2 separate regions of the Homo sapiens genome follow, and region 2 is linked to region 1. Evidence: fine-mapped expression QTL. Tissue or cell type: tibial nerve. Region 1 holds a variant in brackets; the other region holds the start of a gene. All regions are shown on one strand. Distances are between the middles of the regions. Region 1 overlaps TRPV3 (transient receptor potential cation channel subfamily V member 3). Region 2 holds the start of ASPA (aspartoacylase).

Evidence for each region. PIP is the estimated chance that this variant, and not a neighbour inherited with it, causes the effect.
Region 2: ASPA starts here. The variant in region 1 is fine-mapped to the expression of ASPA in tibial nerve (GTEx, PIP 0.97). The same link has a PIP of 0.9 or more in caudate.

The regions. Positions count from the first base shown.
Region 1 is chr17:3,528,775-3,534,151 of GRCh38, forward strand. It overlaps TRPV3 (transient receptor potential cation channel subfamily V member 3), which reads right to left. Exons shown (of 18, transcript NM_145068.4): 8 at 3,883-4,163; 9 at 1,253-1,429; 10 at 63-221. Among named protein-coding and RNA genes, the nearest start is that of TRPV3, 26 kb to the right of the region's middle. The variant A/G (reference allele first, on the strand shown) is at 2,994.
Region 2 is chr17:3,473,113-3,478,489 of GRCh38, forward strand. ASPA (aspartoacylase) reads left to right here and starts at 2,885. Exons shown (of 6, transcript NM_000049.4): 1 at 2,885-3,283. The coding sequence starts at 3,048. It also overlaps a transcript of SPATA22 not described here.

The DNA.
Region 1 (5,377 bases):
GGCAGCTCCAAGCCCCTCCAGCTCTGACGGCCCCATTTTCCCCCTCCAAGGGGCCCACGTACCTCCTCCTCCCGGGGGCGGTAGTACGAGACGAGGGTCAGGGTGATGTTGTAGAAGAAATAAAAGCAGAAGGACAGAAAGAACATGTGCTTGGCAAACTTCTTCCACTTCATATGCAGCAGCGTGTGCAGCGGCTCCAGGGTCAGCATCTCATGCCGGTTCTAGGGGTAGAATGCCACCAGTCACCATGGAGATGAGGGAGAGAGGGAGGGACCGTTTTCTAAAGGCCTGCGGGAGCTCTGAGTCAGTGCTGCAGAAGGGGCCCATCATTATGCCCGATGGACTGGTCTGGTTGGAAATGCTGGGAGGGTGATTTCCGGCTCCTGAGGCTCCTCCCCAGGGTACTAGGGCAGCAGTCAGAGGCCGCAGGAGCCCGGGCTTGCAGCAGGAGGACCCGATGCACAGCAGAAAGTGGAGGATAGAAGCGGGCAGGAGGTGGTGGCAGGGGTTCCAGCCCCAGTTTGCTCCTCCTTTGCTGTGTGACTTTAGGACAGACCCTGACCCTCTCTGGGCCTCAGACTCCTCACCTATAAAACTGCTAACAATCCCTGCCCTACCAACCAGGCTGCTGTGAGGGTCTGGGAAGACCCAAGGCAAGGGGACTCTGGGAAGCATGACTCTTAGTAAAGTATGAAGGAGGAAGACCCAGCCTGCTGCCTCACTGCCCCCAAGAGCTGAACACCTCTCATAGCTGCTCCTCTCTTCACCTCCAGTTGCACCGAACTCTCCCCTCTAGCCTCCTCCAGGAAGGCCCCCCGATTGCTCCTCAGTGCACTCTCTGACCCTCATTTGGGACCAGGTTTTGGGGAAGAAAGAATTCTAAGCCTGGCCGTATACACCAACGGGGGGTGGGAGAGAAACAATATGGAAAGGATCAACCCCAATCACCCCATCACCCACACCCACACCCAAACAGCCCTGGATACTCGGTCCAGAAGACCTCCCGCCCACCGCCCCCGCCACCACCACTCAGGTCTACAGTCCAAGGTCAATCAGGAAGAGTCGGGCCCAGCATCTGTCCCAGGCCTCGCCTTTTCTGTGCCTGACTCTGCTCACTGAGGCAACAGAGTGGGGTATGCAGATGCCGAGGGATGGAGCTGGCAGCACTGGGTCTTCCCAGCGTCCTCTCAGCCCCTGGCCTGAGGTCCAGCCCTCTTCTCCCTGCCCTTCCCCGCCTGTGCAGGAGACCCACGTCGATGTTGGTGTTGTAGACAGTGATTTCCAGCACTGAGTTGTCCGTGGTGGTGTCCACGTTGGTGAGGTCGTAGAGGGAGGATGACACGGGTCCGTACGCCCAGTCGGTGAACTTCCTGGACAGGCTCCGGAGCCGCTTCTCCTTGATCTCACGACTGAGGATGTACTTCAGGATCTGGGACAGGAGGAGGAACAACCATCAGCTGCAGAACAGGGGCTTAAGGCCAACAGGGCTGGACCAGCCAGAGGCTGGCTGGGCCCAGGGGATACACCCGCCCAGAATGGGTGGAGACCTGCCTCTGCGCCTGGCGCCATGGCCCCTGGGCCCCGTCTTTATCTGTGGAATGCGCACAAAGCTTGCTGTTCCGCCCATCTCACTGGGGGTTGTGAATACCAGGGACAAAGGGTGTGAAGGTTCTTCGCAGGCTGCAGCAAGCTGCACAATCAGCTTGAAATGCCTCACGCCAGCTGGGGACCCGGTTCGGTGAAAAATCCAGGCACTGATGATTTTTTAGAAACAGTTTCCATTTGCTCTGGACTTGAGAAGAAGCCAGAAGTGTTCTCAGCGTCCCCAGCCCACCCTAAGCCAAGACTCCTCCAGCTGTGGCTCACCACTCTGGCCAGGCAGGTGGTGACGAGAGACACCACGCCCTACAGGGAGGCCCGTGGGACTTCGGTAGGCCAGTGATCCTCAAACTCTGCTGCATGTTAGGGCTGCTGGGAAACTTAGAAATTCCCACAGCATGGCCAGGTGCAGTAGCTCACGCCTGTAATCCCAGCACTTTGGGAGGCCGAGGCGGGTGGATCATTTGAGGTCAGGAGTTCGAGACCAGCCTGGCCAACATGGTGGAATCCTGTCTCTACTAAAAATACAAAAATTAGCTGGGTGTGGTGGCAGGCGCCTGTAACCCCAGCTACTCAGGAGGCTGAGGCAGGAGAGTCGCTTGAACCTGGGAGGTGGAGGTTGCCGTGAGCCATGATTGCGCCACTGCACTCCAGCCTGGGCAATGAAGTGAGACTCTAGTCTCAAAAAAAACAAAACAAAACAAACAAACAAAAAAACCAAAAATTCCCACAGCATCAACTGATGAAATCGAAATATCCAGGGTGGGACCCAGGAGTCTGTATTTGTGAAGCTTCCTGGTTGGCTCCAAAGTGCAGGCTGGACACAGAGCTGCTGTCTCTGGCTTCCTACTTCCAAAAAGCTGAGCCCTGGGTTACCCCAGGATGAGACATGGACTTCCTAGGACACCAACTCAAGACCCAAGAGGAAGGGACTGTTGGGAAGGACAGTGTCAGAGACCTGGCCTCACAAGACCCACTGGGTTCCCATCCCATCTGTCATGAGAGCCCAGGCAGAGAGCTTCTAGGGATAAGGCCAGGTCTCTCCGCCCCGCACCCCAGCCTATAAAAGCCCCAGGACGGTGGCCAAGCTGGGCAGCATCCAGAAAAGTTTTCTGGAGGACACGGAACAGAGGAGGGAAGCGGGAGACAGGTGCCTCCCCCGGGCCGGCCACAGCGGGCACACTGTCCCCTAGAAAACAAGGGGGTCCTGGGACCATGCTCCATGCAGGAAGCCTCCTCCCTGGGCTGGGGTGGCAGGGACAGCACCCGCCACAGTGGCACACAGGGAAGACGGCCTTGGAGAAGGCTCCTTCTGCAACCACAAGCTGACTCTTCAAAGCCCCAGCAAGCTGTGACCCTGAGGGTAGGCAGGAGCTGCGGGGAGGCAGACACAC[A/G]ATTCCTCCTCTGTTGAAGCCGTTCTCCATCTCCTCCTCCCCCACGGGAGAATCAAAAGGCCCCTTGTGGGTCCCAGCCCTGACCACTTGGGACAGGACCAAGGCCCTCGGGGCAGCTGACCAGGGAGGCGGGTACCCTGAGGCTGGCACAGCTGCGATTACTCAACAGTCACCACCCCCCAGTGTCCTCTGATGGCGTCCCAGGAGCCACAGCCTCCTCGCAGAGCGTAGAGACAGTGAGGCTGAGGAACACGCTTGGACCCCAGAATCAGTCCCCTGAGAAGAACATCTCAGACCAAGCCATGACACCGGCCCCTGAAAGAGATCTGAGCCCAGCCCTGCTCAAGTCTTCACCAAGGCTCCCAGCCAAGCCTCGATTTCTCAGCCACATCACACAAGGCAAGAAGGGCCCAAAGCGGCCACACTCTTGGCTGGGGACCTGGCACAGAGTTCCAACCGCACAAACAGGCTGGGGTCTCCCCATAATTGGGAAATGGCAGCATATTAGCGCTGCGCCCGCAGCAGCCATTCTGGAACTCCCGTCCTCGTGAGAGGCAGAAGGCCCCAAGGGCCACCCACTGCTGGGGCTATTGTGTCACCTCAGCCTCAGGCTCCCCCAGCCTAGCCCTCCCAGGACAAGAGATGGAAACGCGGCGTATTAGGGACTGAAGTCTAGAGAGTGGGCTGCATCGCACCAGCTCCGCGTGGCCCCTCAGAACAAACCTGCCTCCGGCCGCCACGCCACTGCAGTTCTGGACCCAAGGCTGGGACCTTCTCAAGGCTGAGGCTGTGGTTTGTGAATCCCCAGTAAGGCCCCCGGGGCTGAGAGGGTGGCAGCTGTACCTCCTGACCTCCCGACCTCCTGCCTCCCCACGCCCCATGGCCCCACCTCCGCCTTGCCCATCTTGGCGGCCAGCTGCAGCGGCGTGAGGCCATCGTTGTTGCGAGTGGTCTCCAGCTCCCAGTTGCCACTCCGCAGTAGGATCATGTCGTACATGCGCTTCACAAAGTCATTCTGCGTCTTGAAGTCCTCGGCCACGGTCACCAGGGCGTGAAGGATGTTGTTGCCTCGTGAGTCCCGCGAGGTGATGTCCGTCTGCTCGTGCTCCATCAGCAGCTGCACAATCTCGGGCTGGTTGGTGCATGCTGCCAGGGCCAGGGGCGTCTCACCTGGGGGATGAGCGCACTGAAGCTTGGTTCTCTCATGGGCCGGAAGCAGCGTCCCCCAAGCCCCAGGACTGGGGCCCATATCCTATCTCAGCAGGATGGGCACCTCAGGTTCCCTAGCCCTCTCCCCATCTTCCGCTTCTACGGGGAAGAGTGAAGCTAGATCACTGCGGTAGCCTCCTAACTGGCCTCCCTGCCTCCACCCTGGCCCTTTAATACTCTGCTCAGCACAGCAGCCAGACCAACCTGTTAGTGCCTCCCCCAGAATGAAAGCACAGGTTCCAATGACAGCCCACAAAGCCCTGCATACTCTGACCTCCTCTCTCCATCACTCACTCCCTCCTGCTACAACGGCCTTTTTCCACCTCCTCCAACACGCCGCCTGGGGGCCTTCGCTCGGCTGTCCCCTCTGCCTGTAGATAGCCCAGTCACTTTCTCCCTCACCTCCTTCAAGTCCTTGCTCAAATGTCACCTTTCAGTGAGCCACCCTAACCACTCTATTTAAAATTAAAATCCACCCTCCTCTTGTCCCAGACAGAACTCTTGGTTCCTTGTCCTCTGCTTTACTTTTTTTTTTTTTTTTGAGATGGAGTCCTACTCTGTCGCCAGGCTGGAGTGCAGTGGTGCGATCTCGCCTCACTGCAACCTCTGCCTCCCGGGTTCAAGCTATTCTCCTGCCTCAGCCTCCTGAGTAGCTGGGACTACAGGCGCCCGCCACCACGCCCGGCTAATTTTTGTATTTTTAGTAGTGATGGGGTTTCCCCATGTTGGCCAGGATGGTCTTGAACTCCTGACCTCGTGATCCACCTGCCTTGGCCTCCCAAAGTGCTGGGATTACAGATGTGAGTCACTGCACTCGGTCTACTTTGTATTTTTTAAGAGCACTTATCATTTCATATCATAGTATATAAAATTCTTATTTATAGTGCTTATTACCGATGGTCTCTCCCTGTCTAGAATGTAAGTTCCATGAGGGCAAGGATCTCTATTTTGTTCACTGATACATTTCAAGTACCTAGAACAGTGCCTGATGTAGACAGTAAGTGCTCAATAAATGCTTGTTAAGAAAAAATAAGGCAAGTGACTCACATGAGGTCACACAGCAAGCCTGGGACACGACCAGCTCCGGACACCAGGTCTTCAGCTGCCTCCCCTCTCCTCGCCCCACCCAACAAATGCTTCCCAACACCAGGTCCAACCAGCTCCTATGCAGGGCA
Region 2 (5,377 bases), 56 kb before region 1:
AAAAAAAAAAAAAAACCACCTTAAGCCGATTACTTCTGTAGGGACTGCAGACATGAGCAATATAGAATATTTGCTAGCAGTTTATAAACTTAATCTGTTTTATACTTGTCTTTTTCTGCTTATTTATTTCCACCTGGAAAGTTGGTCAGGATGGATCACAGGGAAGGAGAAAACTAAAGTAGTAAAAGTAGTTTGATTACATAACTACTGAACATCACATTATGTATGAGACATCTTATGTATAATATTTAACAAAAAACCCTTCTTATCCCCCAGTCATACCATTTGGGAAACAACCCACCTTAAATTTGTCTCCTACAAAATTTCTGGCAGGGATCTACTGGACAGCCATGACTGTGAAGTAAAACTCTGCTCTCCTTTTGTTTTGTTTTGTTTTGTTTTTGAGACGGAGTTTCGCTCTTGTTCCCCAGGTTGGAGTGCAATGGCACAATCTCAGCTCACTGCAACCTCCGCCTTCTAGGTTCAAGTGATTCTCCTGCCTCAGCCTCCTGAGTAACTAGGATTACAGGCACCCGCCACCACGCCCAGGTAATTTTGTATTTTTAGTAGAGACGGGGTTTCACCATGTTGGCCAGGATGGTCTCGAACTCCTGACCTTAGGTGATCCGCCCACCTCGGCCTCCCAAAGTGCTGGGATTACAAGCATGAGACCACACCTGGCATCCTTTTGTTTTAAACTACATTATTTTATTAATACATCAGGCAACTCTATCCCACAAAACATTTGTAATGCTGGAAGTTATGCTTACTCTTTTAAGTACTTCAGAATATTATATATTCAACTTAATAATGAGATAGTGACAATTCGAAAGGGTTTCACTTCGTATACTATCAGTTCGCTGAGAACTAATAAAAAAGTGTGGTTTTTTGGGTCATCCCAAAAATCAAGTACACTTTGGGAAACAGGGAGTTAAAAATCTTTCGGAAGTTAACTTGGTATAAGAGTATGAAAAGCCTCTGTTGCTCTACTTCTGAGGAAATGCTCTCCTTTTTCCTAATAAAGCTTTCCACAGAAGACAAACTCTGTACACAAAAAACAAGGTAAGTATGGGAAATAATTGCTGCAATTCATTAACTCTCAAAAAAGTTATTCATTTTGACATGTAAGAGAAACTTTATTTATGAATGTGAAATGTGCTTCAAAGTGCTGATCTGTTAAAATTCCATAAAACAAGCTTCAAAATGCAAGTCATTTGTGCCAGCTACGAGTAAATAACTGAAGCAGCATTTCCAGAGAGACTAGGGCAAAGGACAGAACAAACTACAAATCAGCAGAAAAGAAACCAAGCATAGTAGAGTGTTAATAATTCACCATGGTTACTGCTCTTAAAACCAAAGCAACTAAACAACTGTCATCTGTTTACTTTTACGTGTGTTTTCATCATCTCTACACCGTCTGAAGTGTTCAGTGTACATGGATGTGGACAGACAGTCAAAGCCTACAGGAGCTTTTTTTTTCTATTAGAACAGTCATTTTAATGCATAGATTTGATGTGGTTATTTTGCTTTCTCTATCTCTGCATTATAAGCTCTTAAAGGAAGAACATTCAGTGGGTTTATTAAATATTAGGAAGCATTCATATTTTATTTTTCCACCATGTATTTGGTTTGTATGCATGTTTGTTTCCTGAGCACACTGTAATGGCTGTTTATGTGAATTCTGAAAGAGCAAAACTAGAACTGTGAAGAAGACCAAAAATAACAGAGAGGCACCCTATTGTCCTGTGAAAAACACTAGACTTGGGATGAGAAACATGGGTCTCAGGCCTAGGTTCTCCTACATCCCTGCAGAACCTTAACTGAGTTACTTAACCTCTCTTTCGTTTACCCCTGCAGTGGGGATGTCAACACCTAACCCACCCTATCGTATAAAATTAATGTATGAATAAACTGAGTGAAAGGACATTATAAATTAAACTCTGCAATTGTAATAAATTACTCTTATTGTACCCTCTATCAAACAACCTGGCGTTACTAGTACATGGTATTCCCAGTACTTGAACATATGTGACTTTCTGGGTGACTGAGCATGAAATCAAATCAGATTTGGCTCAGAGTCATTTCTCCAAAGGGATGTAATCATCTTAGTATTCTGGAAAATTTCCCCTAATAAGACCCCTTTTTGAGTAACACAGTCCAGTGGAGAGTCCCCGCTGACAGTGAATAAGGCTGTGTCTATGTAAGTTCACATGATGTGGTTAGCACATGCAGTGTGTCCCAAGACATTTTCAGGCATCACAAAAACTTGAAAAGTACTAACAGTTGTCTTTCCTTTGGTATTTAGGCAAAAAATGAGGAAGATTCATAAGTAAGTTAACACAGAATTACCAAAAACCTCATGAGAAAGAAATGAAGGGATGTTTCAGGGTAGCTTTTCGAGTCCCAAGTGATCATTGATTTGGCCCTTCTGTTTCTGATTGTGAAAAAGCATTCTGAAAGAATGGGCGCCGGTTCAAGAGGAGGTCTCTGAGGGTCAGCCTTTGGCTGTTTATAGAGGTGAGATTCAAATGCCCTCAGATCATGAAAAGTGCTTGAACTCATTTCAGAGAAGAAATGTTTTGAAATGCCCGTGGAAATACTGAGTGGGCCACTTTTTTATTTTGTGAAATTAGAAACGTATAAACTATTTTTATTATTACAGATAATTGTGAAAGCCTCACTGGATGACATCCTAGCTGAGGAAAAGAATGGAATTTTTGTATTAGTATGAAATGCTAATTTATTACTGTATTTAGATCTACTGACCATCTGAGGGAGTTAGAAGTTAAAGTAAACAGCTGTATCTCTAGTTGATCTTTGCATATTTTAATCCAAATATGGCAAAGGGCAGGGCTAAAGAAGGGAGTGTCCATAAACGGGGCTCAGAACTTGTAACAGAAAATTAAAATATACTCCACTCAAGGGAATTCTGTACTTTGCCCTTTGGGTAAAGTCTCATTTACATTTCTAAACCTTTCTTAAGAAAATCGAATTTCCTTTGATCTCTCTTCTGAATTGCAGAAATCAGATAAAAACTACTTGGTGAAATGACTTCTTGTCACATTGCTGAAGAACATATACAAAAGGTTGCTATCTTTGGAGGAACCCATGGGAATGAGCTAACCGGAGTATTTCTGGTTAAGCATTGGCTAGAGAATGGCGCTGAGATTCAGAGAACAGGGCTGGAGGTAAAACCATTTATTACTAACCCCAGAGCAGTGAAGAAGTGTACCAGATATATTGACTGTGACCTGAATCGCATTTTTGACCTTGAAAATCTTGGGTAAGACTATGCTTTGTATTGTATATGTATGTATGTTGTGTGAAAAGTGGTAGGTGTGTGAAAGAGAACACATATATGTATATGCAGATGATAATTCATGTCCGTACATGCAGTCGTATGTTGAATAAGATCACTTTCACTTTTAATTATACTGCATTGTGAATTGCACAATTATCTAAACTGGGCATTCACATGCTCTTTTATAAACCTTCTTAAGCACCAGATTATTAAGTTTTCTTTTCAAATGTATACAGACTGAGACAATAAATAGAAAAGGGTTTTGTTTTAAAATCATACCTTTAAAGAAACAGATTTAATACTCCTTTGCATTGAGTTAGTGTTTGGCCACTATGCTTGCATATAAAATTGTTAGCTTTTTAGGAAATTCACTACGTTTTCAAGCAACTATGCTTACGGTAATGCATAAAGTTCTAGTTCAAAAAATGTAATGTTTCAAGTAATATTTGTTGAATGAAAGCGTGATTAAATATCTTTTGTCAGAAGACATCAGACACTTTGGGAGGCCGAGGCAGGCGGATCACGAGGTCAGGAGATCGAGACCATCCTGGCTAATGCAGTGAAACCCCATCTCTACTAAAAATACAAAAAATTAGCCGGGCGTAGTGGCGGGTGCCTGTAGTCCCAGCTACTTGGGAGGCTGAGGCAGGAGAATGGCGTGAACCCGGGAGGCGGAGCTTGCAGTGAGCCAAGATTGTGCCACTGCACTCCAGCCTGGGAGACAGAGCAAGACTCCGTCTCAAAAAAATAAATAAATAAATAAAAATAAAGACATCAGACCTCCCTGTGATCCGAAGTAGCAGACGTACTTAACTTCCATGGTGGATTGTTGTAGATGGGATACCAGAGATGAGAACTAAAGACACCATCTGAATTTTCAGAGCTTATATTTTGCTGATTTGTAATATATTGCATACAACGTAAGCAGTCATAACATGCTAGGTTAGGTCCTTATTAATTATTTTTGCCTTCGTTTACATCATAATAGCTACCACTGTGGATATAATATGACTCCACATATTTGCTTTTTACCACTTCTTTCTTTCTTTCTCTTTTTGAGATGGAGTTTCGCTCTTGTTGCCCAGTCTGGAGTGCAATGGTGCAATCTCAGCTCACTGCAGCCTCCACCTCCGGGTTAAAGTGATTCTCCTGCCTCAACCTCCCGAGTAGCTGGGATTACAGGCACTTGCCACCATGTCCGGGTAATTTTTTGTATTTTTAGTAGAGACGGGGTTTCTCCATGTTGGCCAGGCTGGTCTCAAACTCCTGGCCTCAGGTGATCTGCCTGCCTCAGCCTCCCAAAGTGCTGGGATTATAGGCATGAGCCACCGCGCTGGGCCGCTTTTTTTCTTTTACTAAAAAATATTCTGAAACATCTGTTTTTCTCAGGAAACTGTGCCAGGTACTGGGGGAGTACACAGCTCTATACAACTTGGTTTCTACCCCTCAAGGAGTTGGTAGACTACTAGCTAAGATATAAGATACATGGCCGGGCACAGTGGCTCACACCTGTAATCCCAACACTTTGGGAGGCTGAGGCAGGCAGATCATGAGGTCAGGAGATCAAGACCATCCTGGCTAACACGGTAAAACCCCGTCTCTACTAAAAAAAATACAAAAAATTAGCCGGGCATGGTGGCGGGCACCTGTAGTCCCAGCTATTCGGGAGACTGAGGCAGGAGAATGGCGTGAACCTGGGAGGCGGAGCTTGCAGTGAGCAGAGATGGTGCCACTGCACTCCAGCCTGGGTGACAGAGCGAGACTCCGTCTCAAAAAAAAAAATATATATATATATAAGATATGCACAGGCACAACTAGCCACTGTTCTATGTGCTTGTTTTCTGATCAACTCTAATTTGAGTTAGATCACTCCTTAGGTTTAGTCTCAACACAGATCAAAACATGGACACTACTCTTAATAGAAACATGCCTCACTTTATGGAATAGATGTTTTTCAGGGCAATTATACTGCAGTCATCCTGTTTGTATCAAATCATATTTTTACTAGCATAAATTTTAATTTGAGAAATGCTTTATCTTCATGACTGAGGTTATGTCAACACAATTCATGCTTAT